Homo sapiens: one gene and its partners. The protein of the gene in region 3 purifies or fractionates together with the protein of the main gene of each other region. This does not show direct contact. Each region holds a gene or a part of one and is shown on either strand. Other genes may lie near its edges.

Region 1 (3,500 bases), on a different chromosome or scaffold from region 3:
TTGACAACATGAATGGAACAGAAAGTGAACTTGGGGGCCAGTGAGGCCTTGTAAAGAACATCACTAACATCCTGTTCCAATCCACTCAGAAGCTTTTGAGGGCAAGCACTACTGTCTGCTTCACTGGCCTAGGAAGACAGAGCATAAGCTACAGTGGAAGGCAGAGGGAGAGGCCTCACTCAACAGGCAGCAGAATTTGTGTGCGCACGACTCTTCTCCCCACCGCCACACACATGAAATGCTTCCTGCCCCCTGCCCTTTACTCTCACTAGGTCCTTTTCAAGGATGGAAGAGCCTGCATCTGACTGGACAGAGGCGGAGATGTTCACTGGGCCACATTTTATCACAGGGCAGTGGGCCGAGATGGTCCTTGTGCTCGTGGTTCCAGCTCTTCGGCCTGCTCTTTGGTCCTGCCCATCACAGATCTGAAGGGCAGGGGTGCAGAAGGAACCACAGGTAGGGCCCTGGTCTGATCTGCAGGTTCCATCACGACTGATCAGAGACGGCAGGAACAGGCACCTAGCTCCTGAGAACACAGTGGCTCATTTCCTAAACAGCTTTTGTTACTCAGGTGTGTGCTTCCTTGAGTGCAAAGCCAAGCACCTTAACCGAACCTCCCACCTCATCAGTATTGTTATTAATGATGATGAAGACACTGGGCGCAGTGGCTCACGCCTGTAATCCCAGCACTTTGGGAGGCTGAGTCAGGCAGATAACCTGAGGTCAGGAGTTTGAGACAAGCCTGGCCAACATGGTGAAACCCCGTGCCTACAAAAATTAGCCAGGCATGATGGTGGGTGTCTTTAATCCCAGTTACTAGGGAGGCTGTGGCAGGAGAATTGCCAGAACCTGGGAGGCAGAGGTTGCAATGAGCCCATATTGTGCCACTGCACTCCAGCCTGGGTGACAGAGACTCCGTCTCAAAAAAAAAAAAAAAAAAGATGATGAAGACCTACAAAGTATGTCTGTTGATTAGGTACATGATACAAGTCTAGGAAGAATAGCTAATGAGTTAAATGACTGATCAAAATTGAAAAAAATGCCGGGCAAGGTGGTTCAAACCTGTAATCCTAGCACTTTGGGTCAACCAGGTGGGTGGATCAATTGAGCCCAGGAGTTCAAGACCAGCCTGGGCAACATGGTGAAACCCTGTCTCTACAAAAAAATACAAAAACTAGCTGGGCATGGTGGCACGTGCCTTTAGTCCTAGCTACTTGGAGGGCTATGTGGGAGGATCACTTGAACCTGGGAGGTTGAGGCTGCAGTGAGCCAAGATCGTGCCACTGCACTCCAGCCTGGGTGACAAAGTGAGACCCTCTCTCAAACAAACAAACAAACAAACAAAACCAAAAAAAAAAAAAAAATCCTGATGTAATGAAACATCAGGGTGAGAAAATATGTGTAAAGCCTTGTACCAAAGTTAACACAAGTACAGATGGGGAACAACTAGTGACTTGAGACAACTAATGTAAAACATACTTTGTATTTTAAATGTTTGACTATAAATTCAATGAGTCATGAGTGGGTGCCATCCTTAATTCCTCCTCACTTCACCCTTTCTGGGACAGCACCCTCTCACCACCCGAGTCCAGGCCACCAGCATTACTGCCACAGCTTTCGCATTTCTAATGAGTCCTTCTCACTGCTGCCAGAGGGATTTTTTAAAAAACACAAATGGGATGTTGTCAAGGGCTCTTCAATTGCTTTAGGAAGACCAAACTCTTCACTGTGGCTTAGAAGGAATTTTCTCACCAGGCCTTGCTAGCTTCTCTCCAGGCCCATTCTCTAGATTCTCATCCCTGCTAAGTGACACCCCAGACATAGTGAACCGCTCATTTGCTGCAATGTGCAACCTCAACAGAAATAATTTTTAAAAGAATAAGCATTGTCAGAACACAGACTGGGTCCCCCCATAATGTGGGGGGTGAGGGAGATATCCCTGAGATTGAATGTGCTTAGTAGAGGCTGTATGATTCTGACTCAGGAACAATATTAGGAGGTTTCCTATACTGAGAGGAAGTTGACCTAGGGGACTGCTAGTGTCCCTTTTTAGTATGAGTTTCCGGACAGCTCTGCTTTTTAATAGACCTGAGGGCTTTTTTCTTTAAAAGATTTCCTTATTACTGAATATTAGACTGTAAGTTTCTTGTTTGTATAATTTCTCAAATTCTACTGCTTTATTTTATGTAGTCAGCAATGAGGCAATCCCTTCTTAGGGACACTCATATTGGGTCCACCTCAGAACCTTGACCTATCTGCCCTGCCTGGGGCACTGGGAAGGAGAGGGTGCCCCCCCCGCCTGGGGCACTGTGCAAAGGCTAGGCTAGGGGGACTGTATTCAGGAGAAAGTGCAAGGGTGTGAGCTGTCTGGGAATAACATGGAGGCTCAGATCACATTGCTTTTCTAGTCTTGGGAGAAGCTAATGACTGCTTAGACACCAACGGGCTGGGCAATCCTGGAAATGCATATGTATTTATATACCTTTAAGTATGTACTTATACTATGCAAACGTACTCTTTGGACCGTATAAGTCAAAGACAAGGTCCAAACACCTTCTTGCCTTCCCAACGTCCCCATTTACACACACATCTTTTCATGCTGTCTCTGTCTCTCACCACCCAGGACCTTTTGAACTCACCTGGCCTCTCTCCTCCAGTTCTGTTAGCATCACGATAGAGCAGGATTTCCACTCCCAGATCATTCGCCAGAAGTCCTCAATTGTGTGGAGAAGAGGGCCCTGGCTGGCGATATAGGAGTCCTTCTGCCGGTAGCCCTGCACAGGCCAGGTTAATTGCAAGGGTGAGATGGTTTAATCACAGAGGGACTAGTGGAGAAGACAGACCACTAGAAGGGAATGGGGACTGCTCGGAGGCAAACTCAGCCCATGCAGAGCTCCCCTGTGGCCAAGGACGAAACCCTATCTGACAAGCTGGTTGCTTTCTGTAAGAGACAGGGAAGTGGAACAGGGATTAGAGCTAGGATGAAGAGGGCAGGAATGGGAAAGATCAGGGGGCAGCCAGGTTCCTCTTGGCTGTGGTCTGCTCTGTGAACTTTTTCTTCCAGGTATTATACTACTGCATGCCATCTGTTTTCCCCCACCTTCTGCTCTATGGAGCTGGACAGACCTAATGCACAGGGTGAGTGGGTGGGTGAGTATCAATTCACTATTTGTTGACTGATTCAAACATGATCCTCCCCAGCAGGTATGGGAGGGAGGCACTGCAAGTGCTGGCTGAATCTCCACGGGGTGTTGGGGGCTCAGGGGTCACACCCACCACTTACATCAATAAAGGATGCGTTCACATAGTCTGTATTCTCTTCGCCCCGCTTAACTGGAATGATCACTCTGTTGAATTCATCTGTAAGAAGAATAGCGGCTTATGGCTAGCCAATATCATTTGTCCTCTCCCTCTCCTTGCATTGCTCCCACCTCAGGCCCTGGGCAGACAGAATCCCAGCTGGGCAAGGACATGTCTGTTCCTAGCTCATTAGGGAGAAA
Region 2 (3,500 bases), on a different chromosome or scaffold from region 3:
TAGATGAATTTTAATGTTTACAAGTGCAAAAGCAAATAAATATTTACCAGTTGCTTTTTTTTTGCACTCTTATAACTCCACAACAGCTTAGACGCAAAAAAAATTGTTGCTAAACATCTTGTAGTCTGGCAAAATGAAGAATTTCTTATTAAGAAAAGCCCTCACAACAATAACAACTCCTCATGCTTATGGCTCCCTTGCAGAAACTATCAGGATGGTTCATTAAGATTTGAGCATATGATAGAGCAACAAAATTGCCACCAGGAGATGAGGATCTCATGCCCTGGCCTCACTGTCTATACACTGGCTCATTCCCACAGCAATGGGAGCTCTGGGAGAGAGGGCCGTATTTCTTGGGCAAGGACCATGGGCCAATACCAGCTCTCCCCAGGCTGAAGCCTTTCATTCTGTAGGTTTCCATGAACAAGCCACTTCTCCAGAGTGGCCTTTCTTAATTAAGGTAGGTCCCTATCCTCTCCATAATTCTCTTGGACAGCATCCTGTTTATTTCCTCTATTACCATTTCACAATCGAAAACTTCAGTTAGTTAGTTTTCCAGCTTGCCAGTTAACCATCTAGCTTGCCGACTAACCACCATCTAGCTTGCTGGCTTTCTAACGTTCCTGCTACCTAACTTCTGGGCATGCGCTCCAGCTAGCTACTGTCTTGTCATCTGTCTGCCTTCCCCTTTAAACTTTTTAGGCAGGGACTAGGATCCCCTGGGACAGCACCCTGCCCAGTCCCTGGCACCAAACTAGCCATTTGTAGATACATTATATAATGAATATGGAATGAAATCTTAATAAATAAACTTCTTAAGATCGATGGCTTTTTTTATTCATGTATATCATTGCCTGGTTGAAGTCCCTGGAGTTATTCCGAGGCAAGAAAACAAATATCAAAGAAAGACTTACTCCAGCGTAAGAGAGTAGGCTTTTGGAGTAAAACAGGGACACACACATACACATTTCACATGTGTGCACCTTTTCTATGACAGACATATATGATTCTAAGAATATTAAGTACCTTCTGAAGCTTCACCTTCTGCTCCCAATTTTTTGAAAAAGGGTACGACTATTCACAGGAGCAGGAACCCTCGAAGAAGACCTGCACCACTTACCTGGATTAACAGTGATAAATCTGCTGTCTTCAGAAAATCGGTCCCCGCGGGACATAGGCTTTTTAGATGGCATTTCGGGCCTCTTGGGATCACTCCCTGCATACTGCTCCTCTGTGGCGGTGGGGGGCACTTGGGTGGAGGTGACCATGTCGGGGTCCAGGCCTGGGCCGGCATCCCTCCTTCCGCCCGTCTGGTCTGTGGGGACGGCAGTGTGATCCTGCTCATGCCCAGGTATAGTCTGATGCCCTCCCTCGGCAGTCCTGTTAGGAGACGAGGGTGTGGGGCTGGGCTCCGTCTGATTCCGCTCCTCGGCAGCGTGGGTCACCCCACTCTTCTCCTTCTTTTCGGAGTCCTTCTCTCCATCCTCCTCGTGCTCCCGCTCCCCATCCTCACTCTCGCTTTTCTCATCCTTCTCTCCTTCCTCGGTGCCCTCGCCGTCCTTGGTTGGTGACGAATCACCATCGGGCCCTGGAGAAGCCAAGGCCTCTGTGGTGGCTAGGACTGGCCTAGCCGCCTGCTTGCTGGCTGAGGCGGCCGTCGGGAGGCGCGTGGGCCACACAGTGCTGGGGAAAGAGGAGATGCCACCACCGCCGAACCCCAGGCCGGCGAGCAGCGTGCTGGTGACCACCGAGGCCACTGTGGCCTGGCTGCCACTGGAGGAGGGGCCCATCCCAGTTGCCATGGAAACAAATGAGAATGGGATGCCAGAGGACGTCCAGGTAGAAGACCCCGAGCTGATGGGGGCCATGTCGGCTGAAGAGGCAGGAGACGCTGTGGGCTGGAAAGGGTCACCCGGCAAGGGTGGAAAAGAGGCAGAAGAAGAAAAAGCAGAGAAGCATCAGTAATTGAGATTGGGAATGAGGCCCTGGTTGTCACCCTCTGAGGATTTTACTCATCTATGCTATGGAGTTTTCCAATGTATGGCATAAAGTTGACATTAGGTGGTCCATGGGTGATCAACTTTTATTTTTAATGGTTTTATAATTGTGAACATGTTAAAATGCATAACTAGTCGATCAAACTCAGCTTTTCACTGATATTACCCAAGATGAGGCTAGGTGCCAAAAAAACTAAGTAGTGTTAAAGCTGACTTACACAACAAAGAAGTCATGAACTGGAAAAATCAGATGGTCATCTGTTCTTGGGGTGATGAGAGGCAGAAGACCTTTGATTTTATGTATATCACTGACACTTGAGTAGATACTCAGCTCTAGGTCTGGAAAGATACTGGGTGATCCAGTCCAACCCCACTGTCTCCCAGTGAGGAAGTGGGTGGACAAGGAGGGAAAGCAGCCTGCCCAGGTCTGCAATGACAGGGTCAGAGGCAGGAGCCATGCTCTGCACTGCATGCTCTGGGCACTGGTTTACATCTCTGCATCTCCATGTTGGGCACTGCAGAGTCACTGTACCTTGCAGTTTCTAAGTTGATCCGTGGGAAAATCTGAGCCCATACAGATGACAACAACATCAACAACAATAACAAGAATTCCAATTAACAAATGCCAACCGTGTGCCAGGGCTTTCCATGCTACTCTGGAGGCAGGCATGATCATCACCCCATTTTGCAGGTGAGGAAACTCAGACACAGAGATGTTAAAGAGCTTACACAAGGTACATGACCTGGAAGGCACAAATGCAGGGCTGCCTGGGTCTAAGACTCGGCTTGTTCTTACCACCATACTAAACTGGGGCTCAAGTCTGGGGGTTTTACTCACATAAGGTATCTTAGGAAAACAAGAAGTGCTGCTCTGAGCTATTAGTCTAATTTTAGCTTGCCTGCTGGGTGATGCTGGACACATTACTTTAACTCACTGAGCCTCGGTTTCCTCATCTGTAAAACGGGAACAACAGTAACACTGACCTTGTGGGCTGCCTGGAGAAGTAAATAAAATAATCTGTGCCTGAAACCCAGGAAGAGCATAGTGAATTTTAGGCTATTATTATTATCACCACTGCTGTGATTAGTATTTTAATTATTCATTATACCAACCAGGAATGGGGAAACTAAGATATTAATTCTGGTTCCAGAAATTTTCAGATCCATATAACTTTACGCAAATGACAACCTCTGAATTTGAGTATATGTCAAATGAAAGGGTTGGAACAGATTTAACTCCTTTGTGGTCCTGCATCGTCTGATCCCACAAATCATAACTAAAAATATGAAGAATTTTTACCTTCACAAAATTATATAATATAACCACCTAACACTGTTGCACAGCTTGTGTTCATAAGGTACTGAATTATAAAAAGTGAATAATGTAATTTTTTCTCTACTATAACCGCTTTACACTGAGCAGTTTAACAACATTATACTGCCACTTCGTGGTGACAGTTTTAACTGCAAGCAAATTAACAACCAGCCACGACAAAGCAATTT
Region 3 (5,779 bases):
CTTAAATCTTAAGAAATCTAATAATTTAACTTAGAAATGCAATGAGCTCAAAGTCTCTTAAATATGCCAATACCGTGTATAAACGCACTAAGATTTCCATGTAATATTACAAGATGATTTTGATTAGTTAGTTCCACATTTTATATTGGATTTGTGAGATTCTTCATAATAGGCCAAATTATTTAAACATTACAAGACTGTGAAAAATCAAACCTGTCCAGATTCCTTAATACAAAAGGCATATTTTGGCCAGGCACAGTGTCTCACGCCTGTAATCTCAGCAATTTGGGAGGCAGAGGCGGGTGGATCACTTGAGGTCGGGAGTTCAAGACCAGCCTGGCCAACACGGCGAAACCCCATCTCTACTAAAAATACAAAAAAATTGCTGGGCATGGTTGTGTGTGCCTGTGATCCCAGCTACTTGGGAGGCTGAAGCATGAGAATCTCTTGAACCTGGGAGGTGGAGATTGCAGTGAGCTGAGATCACGCCACTGCACTCCAGCCTGGGTGGCAGAGTAAAACTCTGTCTCAAAAAACAAACTAAAAGGCATATTTCTATGGCTATTTTATATTTATATTAATCATATTTATATTTTATATTTATACTAATCATTTCTAGACTTAAAGCTAAGTCTTCCTAGGTTGTAAAAATGCTTACCTACTGAGGGACGAAAGTACTATCCCAATAGTGGATTTTGTGATGGACTAGAGATTGTGGCAGGGGCGTAGTAGGGTCTGGTCAGCCCCCAATGGGCTACAAGGACCTCTCCTTACAGGTATTGAGTCAAGAACACTGGGCATCAGTGGAGGATGTGCCTGTAGCTCATGTTCCTGGATCCAAGCATGTGCAGTTTCTTTATAAGTAGTTTTTAAATTGTGGAACATAACATGTACTCAAAAGTGTATAAAGCAAAAGTACAGCTTAATTATTTTCATCACTAGTTAACAAACATCCTTACAATCACCACCTGGGTCAAGAAACAGAGCATTGCCAGAACCCCAGAGGCTTGTCCCTGTCCCTTCCCAGTCACCATGTGGTCCCACCCTCAAATACAATCACTTTCTTATTTTTCCTGTATACATTTACCACCTAAATATGCATCCAAAATACCATTGGCTACTTTTGCTTTTGAAAAACTTTATCTACAATGGAATCCATAGCACATACCCTCTTGAACAGGCTCCTTTTGCTGCCATGTTTGTGAGACTCATGCTCCTTGTGTGTAGGTGTCACTGTGTAATTGTCATGGCTGTATGGCGTTCTACCCAATGGCTATCCTTGCATTTTTTAACATCCATTCTCTTCCTGATGGGTATGTCGGCTGATTCCAGTTTGGTGCTATGGTGAGTATTTGGCTGTAAAGATTCCTGGCCATGCTCCCTGGTACACATGACGGCCATATCCAGGCCCTGATGTGGGACTGGCAGGTTAGAGGACTGTGTGTCTTCTTCTCCAACAGTTGATGCCAAGCCATTTTCCAGGTTGGTTCCATCAATTCGCATTGTTACTAGCAGTGTATGCAAATCTCCCTCCCACAGTCACCTTTGACACTGGTGCTATCCATCTTTCTAACTTCTGAGGCTCAGATGAGGGTGCCGCAGTGACTCCTTTGGGTGCTGATTTGCATTTCTCTGGTAAGTGAAAAGTGGAGCACTTTTTGATAAATACCTTGCTCCCCTGCATGTCATCTTCTGTGAAGTGTCTGTTCACATCTCATACCTTTTTTTATTTAACTGAGCTGCTCTAATTCTTTTATTATTTGCAGGAATTCTTTCAGGTATAAGCCTGTGATTTATTTATTTTTGTATAAGGCATGGTAGGCAGAATAATTCCCTGCCCCCACCACTGCCCCGCCAAAAATGTCCTGCCCTAATACACACAAAGTCAGAGCCTGCAAATACCTTCCATGGCAAAAGAGACTTTGCTGATGTGGTTAGGGATAGAGACCTGGACATGGGAGAGGATCCCAGATCATCCAGGTAGGCCTAGTCTAATCCCATGAGTCTCAGGAGTGGAGACCCTGTCCCATGGGGCTTGGGGGGAGAGGGGACAACGGATGAAGGGTCAGAGAGATGTGGTGCTGCTGGCTTTGGGGTTGGGGGAAGGAGTCCGGGCCAATGAATGCCAGTGACCCCTGGGGCTGGAAAAGGCAAGGAAGCAGGTTCTCCCCTAGAACCCTGGAAGGAGCCACCACTGCTGAGTCCTGCCTGCTGGCCCAGTAAGGCCCAGGGACTCCAGATCTACTGAGCCAGGAGGTGGCGAGTTCTTGTTGTTTCAAGCCACTCCATTTGTGGTGACTGGTTGCGGCAATAGTAGAAAACTAAAGATTTGTGTGCCGCACGTTGATTCTGCCCCTCTGGCCTTCCTTTGGTTCCCTTAGTGTCCTTCGGTAAGTGGGAGCTCTTGATTTGAATGGAGTCACACTTGCCACATTCCCTTTGATGCTTCTTAGGTCGTGGTTGAGAAATCTCCCCTGGCCTGGGAGCTGGAGAAGCCCCTTCTCCATCATCTCCTAGAAGCCTTGTGCAGCTTTTCCCACTGAGGTCCGCGGTCCCCTCTAGCTGAGGTCTGTGTGTGGGAGGAAGGCCTCTTCGGAATCTTCTCTGTGCAGGTGGCTGACCAGGCGCTCACTTAGTGAGTGCTAAGTGTTTATCTCTTCCCAGCAGCCAGCCAGCCCAAAGCATGAACTCTGCCGTGGTGGGAAGCAGAAAAGTTCCTACTAAACTTTCCCCCTTTTTAGTAAGTGTTTTCTGGACCCCAAAGTGACCTTTTTCAAGAAGTGTGAAGTGTTGTGAGTGAGGCATGGGGGGATGGGGGAGGCTTGGGGGTGGAGGTGAGGATCGCCCTGTGTCAATTACTGGAGGTGGAAAATCCTCGCAAAAGTCACTCAACCTCCCTGAACATCGGTAGTGCCATCTGCTAAATAAGGGTCCTGACTCTTCCCGACTTACCAAATTCCAGGGAAAGACCTGCCGTGCAACAGACACAGGAAAGTGATCAAAACCACTGGTGTTCAAGAAACACACATTGAAACTGGTAAAACTTTTCTGTCCCAAAGTAAACATATTTAGAAACATAATTCTCCCTCTGGTGAGGTTGTGGGCATGTGGCGGCTTGACTGAGCTGGGGGCAAAGGGGCAGCTGTGGGCGTCATGGGAGTGTGTCTGGCTGGGGAAATGGGGTGACTTCCACGACGCAGCGCTTGTGGGTGTGGCCTCCCCACTAGCAGGTGCATGTGGAGGGGTCCTGGCCCGTCTAGGCGGGCCGCACCTTCATCTCTGACACCTTGTAGCTATATTTGTACCCCTTCGCCGCACTCCAGTTGATACCATTGGCATAGCTCTCATGGGGTCCCATGAGGTAGAGACCATTGAGGTTTGAAGCATGACAGTCGGCGTACCACCAGGCTCCTTGGAACTTCTCAGCACAATTCGAAGAACTCACATCATTGTCTTGGTCTTTGGTGGAGAAGAAGTTGTTGTTGTGGCCCGTTAGAGAATTACCTGCTCACAGAAAATGTGGGGTTTGCAGATGCTGGAAAAAGCCCTGCCACTGTGAGACCCTCACCACATCCTGCCTCTGAGCAGAGCCAACCTCACTTTAGCGACGCATGAGCCGAGCTACAGGTGCACAAATGACCCACCCAGGCCTTGGAGGAAGGGGAAGCAGGAGGCAACCTCTGGCAACCTGGTCTGGAAATCTCTCTCCACAACCTGAGGCCCCTGCTCCAGCAACCACCTGTTTCCTCCAGGGCTCCCGCAAACTGTCAGGCCTCCTGCTCTCTCCTGGAATGACCTCCCTCCTCCAGCCTGCGCCGCTCCTTCCGGTCTCTCCCCACGTCCCCTGGTGGCCCTTGGTAGGTTCAGGACAGCCCTCACCTGGGGGCTTCTCCTCTATCTCAAGCCCTGAGCCGGAAGCTCATCCCTGGCTCCTATAGCTGAGAAATGTCACCCCCTGAGCCTCGGTTTTACCACCTGCAAAATGGGGGTGACCTTCCCTGCCCTGCTGCCTTCCTTGGAGGTCATGCGTGAGATCGTGCCTGTGAAAGGACTGCACAGACTCCAAGGCTGTCATTTCCAAGGCTCCCCTGGGACTGCCTTGCTCCATGGAGCAGTTAGTTACACAGACTTCCAGCTGCAGCAATTCTCAGTGCCTTTCACGAACGATGTGCACTGGGAATTCCCTAAGCAGACGCCCTGTAGGAAATGCCTCCCCAGATCGTGTAGCCAGAGACTCCTTTTGGTAAAGAATGTCCCACAAGGCTGGTGTTCCATGGAGCACAGTTTGGGAAACAGCTCCAAGGCACCCATGAGAAAAGGACGACGTCTTCCAGGTTTCAGCAGTGATGCTGGTGGGTCGTCTCAGCCCTGCCCAGGCAGCTCACTGTGCGGCAGACATAGCCTTAGGAATACCAGCCGCTATGTCCTGTGAGCCCCACGCTGTACAGAGACACAAATGCTAGTGTCTGCTTCATAGATGGAGAAATGGGATTCAGAGAGAGGAGGGCCCAAGGTCACCAGGGGAGACAGAGCCAGGTTCTCTCTGCTTTCCAAGCCCCACTCAGGCCACCAGCCCCAAGCAGACACTCACCCGCACTGCCCCCGACAAAGGCTCCCAGTACCAGCTTGTACTTCTCTGCCTCGTCAGCCACCTTGAATGATTTGTACTTAGCAAACTGGTGGTTGCCCTCAAAGTCCACCAGGTCTACACGGAGCTCGCTGCTTCCTGTTGGAAAAAGATTTTAAGGCCCCAGCCTTTAAGATCTTTCTGTCACCAGGCATGAGGGCTGGGGATGGGTAATTTTTTTTTTTTTTTTTTTGAGACAGAGTTCCGCTCTTGTTGCCCAGGCTGGAGTGCAATGGCACCATCTCAGCTCACTGCAACCTCCGCCTCCTGGGTTCAAGCAATTCTCCTGCCTCAGCCTCCCCAGTAGCTGGGATTACAGGTGTGTGCCACCACACACAGCTACTTTTTTTTTTTTTTGTATTTTTAGTAGAGATGGGGTTTCACCATGTTGGTCAGGATGGTCTCGATCTCTTCACCTCATGATCCACCAGCCTCAGCCTCCCAAAATGCTGGGATTACAGGTGTGAGCCACGGTGCCCGGCTGGGGATGGATATATTCTTAAGGGATGTCTGAACGTGGCATCCAGGAAAAAAATCAACCGGAAATGTCAGAAAATCCCTTGTTGCTATCAGGCCCTCAGGGATGGCTTTCTGTTTCTAAACACCTTTCCCGTTATTTCAGAGAACTGAACATGCCCCACTGGAGTTCACTGGGTGGAAGGGAGCATTCTTTCATTTTGAAAGTGTACCTTCTCCTTCTAAGGGTTGGTGAGCCACTAACACAGCAGTGGGCGAAGCTCTAATTGTAGTTTCTTTTGCAGGAATTTGAGGCACCTGAGTGGATTCCTTCAATCATGCCACAGGGCAGTGGGCAGGGATAATGGACCAGCAATTATACAGACTGCCTCAGGACCAGCTGTGAAACTCATCCCCTGCCCCAGAGGGTTGGGGGGAGGCCCTCTCACTCAGGTGAGTGCGGCTGTGGGGGGCCTGCTGAGGCGTGGGCTGGAGGAGGCGAGCGTGGGCTCTCCATGGGACTAAGATGCCAGCTTCAGAGGCAGATCAACAGCTGGAGATGGGGGAAGGCTACCCCAAGCCCCAGTGGTCTCTCTCCTGCTTCCCACTCTCAGGATCTAAGATGCCAGTAGGACCAAGACCTGAAGAGGCCTTCAGCCCAGGGCTCTAACCGTTTCCCTTCCCGATGTTGCCAGA
Region 4 (3,500 bases), on a different chromosome or scaffold from region 3:
AGGAAGCTGAGGTGGAAGGATCACCTGAGCCCAGGAGGTCAAGACTGCAGTGGGCCTTGATCGCACCACTGCACTCCTGCCTGGGTGATAAGAGTGAGACTCTGTCTCAAATAATAATAAATGTAAACCAAATCCCACCATTCATCCCCTTAAAAAGCTATCAGTGGCTCCCCATTGTACTCAAGAGAAGTCCTCAGCAGGGACCCTGCTCATCCATTGAGCCTTGGGTCACTCACCCCTTACTCTGTGGGAAGGTGAACCTGTCCATCATGTCACCTTCTTCTACCTCCTCAAATGCTCTCTGCTCCTTCTAGCAGCTGGGTCTGCACCAGTTTTGTTCCTTTGCCTGGAATGCTATTTCCTGCAGCTTTATCTGGCTAGCTCCCACTTATCCAGGTCTCAGCTTAAGTGTTTTTCTTCATAAAGGCCTTTTATGAGCATATTTTATGTATTTGTGAGTTTGCTTAATGTCTGTCTGACATAAGCTACACAAGAGTGAAGTCTGTCCGTTTGATTCACCACAATATAAGCAGTGTCTGGCACAGGGCCTGGCACATAGTGGTCCCGCTCCATATCCACAGATGAATGAGACAGCCCCTGCCCTCAGGGATTTCACTGATGGGTGGGGAGACAGGCAAACATAACTAATCATGAGACAGCGAGAGAAATGCCGACCCAGGCATGTGAGAGAAAGGTGAGCACAACTTGAGGAGGTTAAGGGAGGGATAAGAAAGAGCTTTCTAGGGCTGGGTATGGTGGTGCATGCCTGTAGTCCCAGCTGCTTTGGGAGGCTGAAGCAGGAGGACCACTTGAGCTCAGGAGCTGGAGGTTGCAGTGAGCTATGACTATACCACTGCACTCCAGCCTGGGTGACAGAGCAAGACCTTGTCGCCACATTTTTAAAAAAGAAAGAGATTACTGGATGAACCAGAAGAACTTGTTTAGAAAAGAGGGAGATCAGCAAAGAGAAAGATTCCAGAAAAGCAAACTGATGTAAGCTCACAAAGGCCACATCTACCAGACCAAAAGTTCTAGCTTTTTGTGCTAGAAATAGTAAGTCATTGAAGAATGTCAGGGGGTGAAAAACATGATCAGAGTAACATGATAAAAACCTTGGCTGCAGTGTGAGGGGTGGGTTTTGCACATTTCACCTCCAGGCCCTCATTCTCAATATTCCTGGGTGAAATGCCCCGCCCGCCCTCACTGCTCTGGTTTCCTGGGCTCATTTCAAGCCCCACCACCTCCAGTCTCCACCTTGACAGTGTTGGTGGATCGAGCTGCTTGGTGCAGAGTCCAGACTGCTGTGAGCCTGTTCTCTTCTGCTACTGTGTGTCTTTTCTCCCTCACTAGACTGAGAGCACAGCCTGTGTCTGATGACTCCCTATACCCCCATAGCCTCTCCCTAACACAAAGCTTTAAGCATGAAAAGTGTTTAATAAATGCTTTATATAAAAATAGTTCTACTTGCAGAGTGTTTAGGAATCGCTTTATAGAGTCTAGCTCTCATAAACCAATGATACCTGTCCCATGGCATCCATGATGAGTGAAACCCTCGCCAGGTGACCCAGCCCAGCGGAGGAAGGAAGGCCTACTACCTGCCCTGATCTCCCAGTGCCATCACTCAAAGTCATCTTACTGTTTGTGCAAGGAAATGCCCTCCTATCTGCCCTAAGACACTGACAGAAGCTGAGGACTTGCCAAATGATAAAGATAGGAAGACAGGAGAACAAGGCTGGCTGAAAGGTGGTCAGCTGGCAGACACGGGCCTGGGTCTCATCTCTGCCCATAAAGCACAGACTGGTCAGCAGTAAGAGACAAGTCCAAGGTCCCTGACCCTGACTACCTGGGGCAGTTGGAAAAGCGGAACTCCAGGTGGGAAACATGAGGAGAATGCCCAGGCAAAGGAAAACAACAGGCCCAGCACCCCCGCCAAGCGGAAGTAGCACGCGAAGTGGGTCCTGGAGGCATTTTGTCCAGTGCAGCTCAGGGCAAATCTGACCCTCAGTCTTCATCAGGCAAAAGGGAACAAAATGCTTTGCAAGCACAGTGGGCTGTTAGTGACACACTCAGGAGGGGCTAGTGACAGCAGCCTTCCACAGAGAGAGTGCACAGACCTAGAAGCTCTGGCACCCAGGGCCCCTACCTGCTCGGGAGGTTGGCTTCAGCTCCAGGCTTTCCTGATCCGTGGCATCCAGGATCTTGTACTTGCTTTTCCTCTTGGGTTTTCCTTTTTGCCTAAAAAACACAACCCCCACCCCTGCTCAGGAAAGAGGTTCTCTGGGAGGATGAGGATGAGAGCCAGATGTGCATGCAGGGCCCTATTTTGGTGGGGCACCTACTGAGAGGGGTGTCCTCTCCTCACTTCTCAGCCAGGAAAGGTGGCAACTGTGATTTGTTCCTCAAATGTTCCTCAGCAATTCTGGAGAAGGGCAAGGGAGCTATGACCACCTTGGCACGGACTCACCATCCCACAGGGGCAATGAAGGACAGATTGGTTAAAAACGTAAAGAAAACAAAATCCTCTGCTTGAAGGGTGTGGGAGGAGACAGGCATTACACTAACAAAGTTGGTAATGGTGGTTGTCTTAGACTGGTGGGAATTTTTAAAAATTCCTTTAGTTCTAAGTTTTATAAGAGGTTATACTGAAAGTTGAATCTCAGCTCTGTCACTATCAACTGGTCCTCAGACAGTGATGTACCTTTCCTGAGCCTAAGTTTTTTTATCTGTAAAATGGGAAAAGGTTATGTGTCTTAAAAATGATATTACCTATAAAAATATTATGGCACACAGTATACACAGAAATAATATTATTAATAATGAAAACATAAAATAAATGTAACCATTCCATCTTAGAAGACTCAATAGGAAGACTCAAATGAAAAAACACAGGACGCCTGAGCCTGGCTAGCCTAAAGTGCATGTGTGGAAACATGCACACTCATGAATCCCAACTAGAAAGAAGGCAGAATTAAAAACTCGCGGGCTATGCTGGTGAGGCTACAGTGTGGTGCATTAAAGAAAACACACCTTACAGATGTGATCCGGGTCTGTACCCCTGGCCCTCACGCTCACTCCCCCACCTTGCCCTGCTCCCGCCCAGCCATGTTTCCCAGGTTCCAAATCACTGCAGTGGCTGCCACTCACTGAAGGAGTGTGCCTCTGCCCTCAGGAGAGTCTCAGGGTGAGCAAAGCTGCCCGTGCATGCCTTAGGTGGGTCAGAACTCTCTAATGCTGACTAAGGACCCAGCCCAGTCCTTCCACGTGGAAGGTGCCAAATACCTCTCTGAGGAACGAATGTATGACAAGAAGCCCGAATGAATTTCAAAGGAAAATCCATCTTACCTCTTACAACAACAGATCACAGTCCAAGACAGGATTCCCAAGGCAACAACAATGACAAAGGTAGCAATGATAACATATAACACGCTCCACTCTGCCAAGAAAATCAAAATGGTGAGGGCTGTGGAGGGAGAGGCTGGGAGGGAGGTCTGGGCTGCTCC

Evidence for each region. Proteins that work in one complex are often made in the same cells at the same time.
Region 1: the proteins of FCN1 (region 3) and PTPRA purify together in Homo sapiens (affinity purification with mass spectrometry; 3 studies listed by BioGRID and IntAct, with this or other methods). This does not show direct contact.
Region 2: the proteins of FCN1 (region 3) and PTPRG purify together in Homo sapiens (affinity purification with mass spectrometry; 3 studies listed by BioGRID and IntAct, with this or other methods). This does not show direct contact.
Region 4: the proteins of FCN1 (region 3) and KIAA0319L purify together in Homo sapiens (affinity purification with mass spectrometry; 3 studies listed by BioGRID and IntAct, with this or other methods). This does not show direct contact.

The regions. Positions count from the first base shown.
Region 1 is NC_000020.11:3,026,981-3,030,480, reverse strand, and holds part of PTPRA (receptor-type tyrosine-protein phosphatase alpha isoform 1 precursor), read right to left. Parts: intron 3,361-3,500; coding exon 3,284-3,360; intron 2,775-3,283; coding exon 2,640-2,774; intron 1-2,639. UniProt on the Homo sapiens protein: Tyrosine protein phosphatase which is involved in integrin-mediated focal adhesion formation.
Region 2 is NC_000003.12:62,201,571-62,205,070, reverse strand, and holds part of PTPRG (receptor-type tyrosine-protein phosphatase gamma isoform 1 precursor), read right to left. Parts: intron 1,899-3,500; coding exon 1,121-1,898; intron 1-1,120.
Region 3 is NC_000009.12:134,906,542-134,912,320, forward strand, and holds part of FCN1 (ficolin-1 precursor), read right to left. Parts: intron 4,727-5,779; coding exon 4,592-4,726; intron 3,505-4,591; coding exon 3,257-3,504; 3' UTR 1-3,256.
Region 4 is NC_000001.11:35,438,904-35,442,403, forward strand, and holds part of KIAA0319L (dyslexia-associated protein KIAA0319-like protein), read right to left. Parts: intron 3,434-3,500; coding exon 3,343-3,433; intron 2,236-3,342; coding exon 2,144-2,235; intron 1-2,143.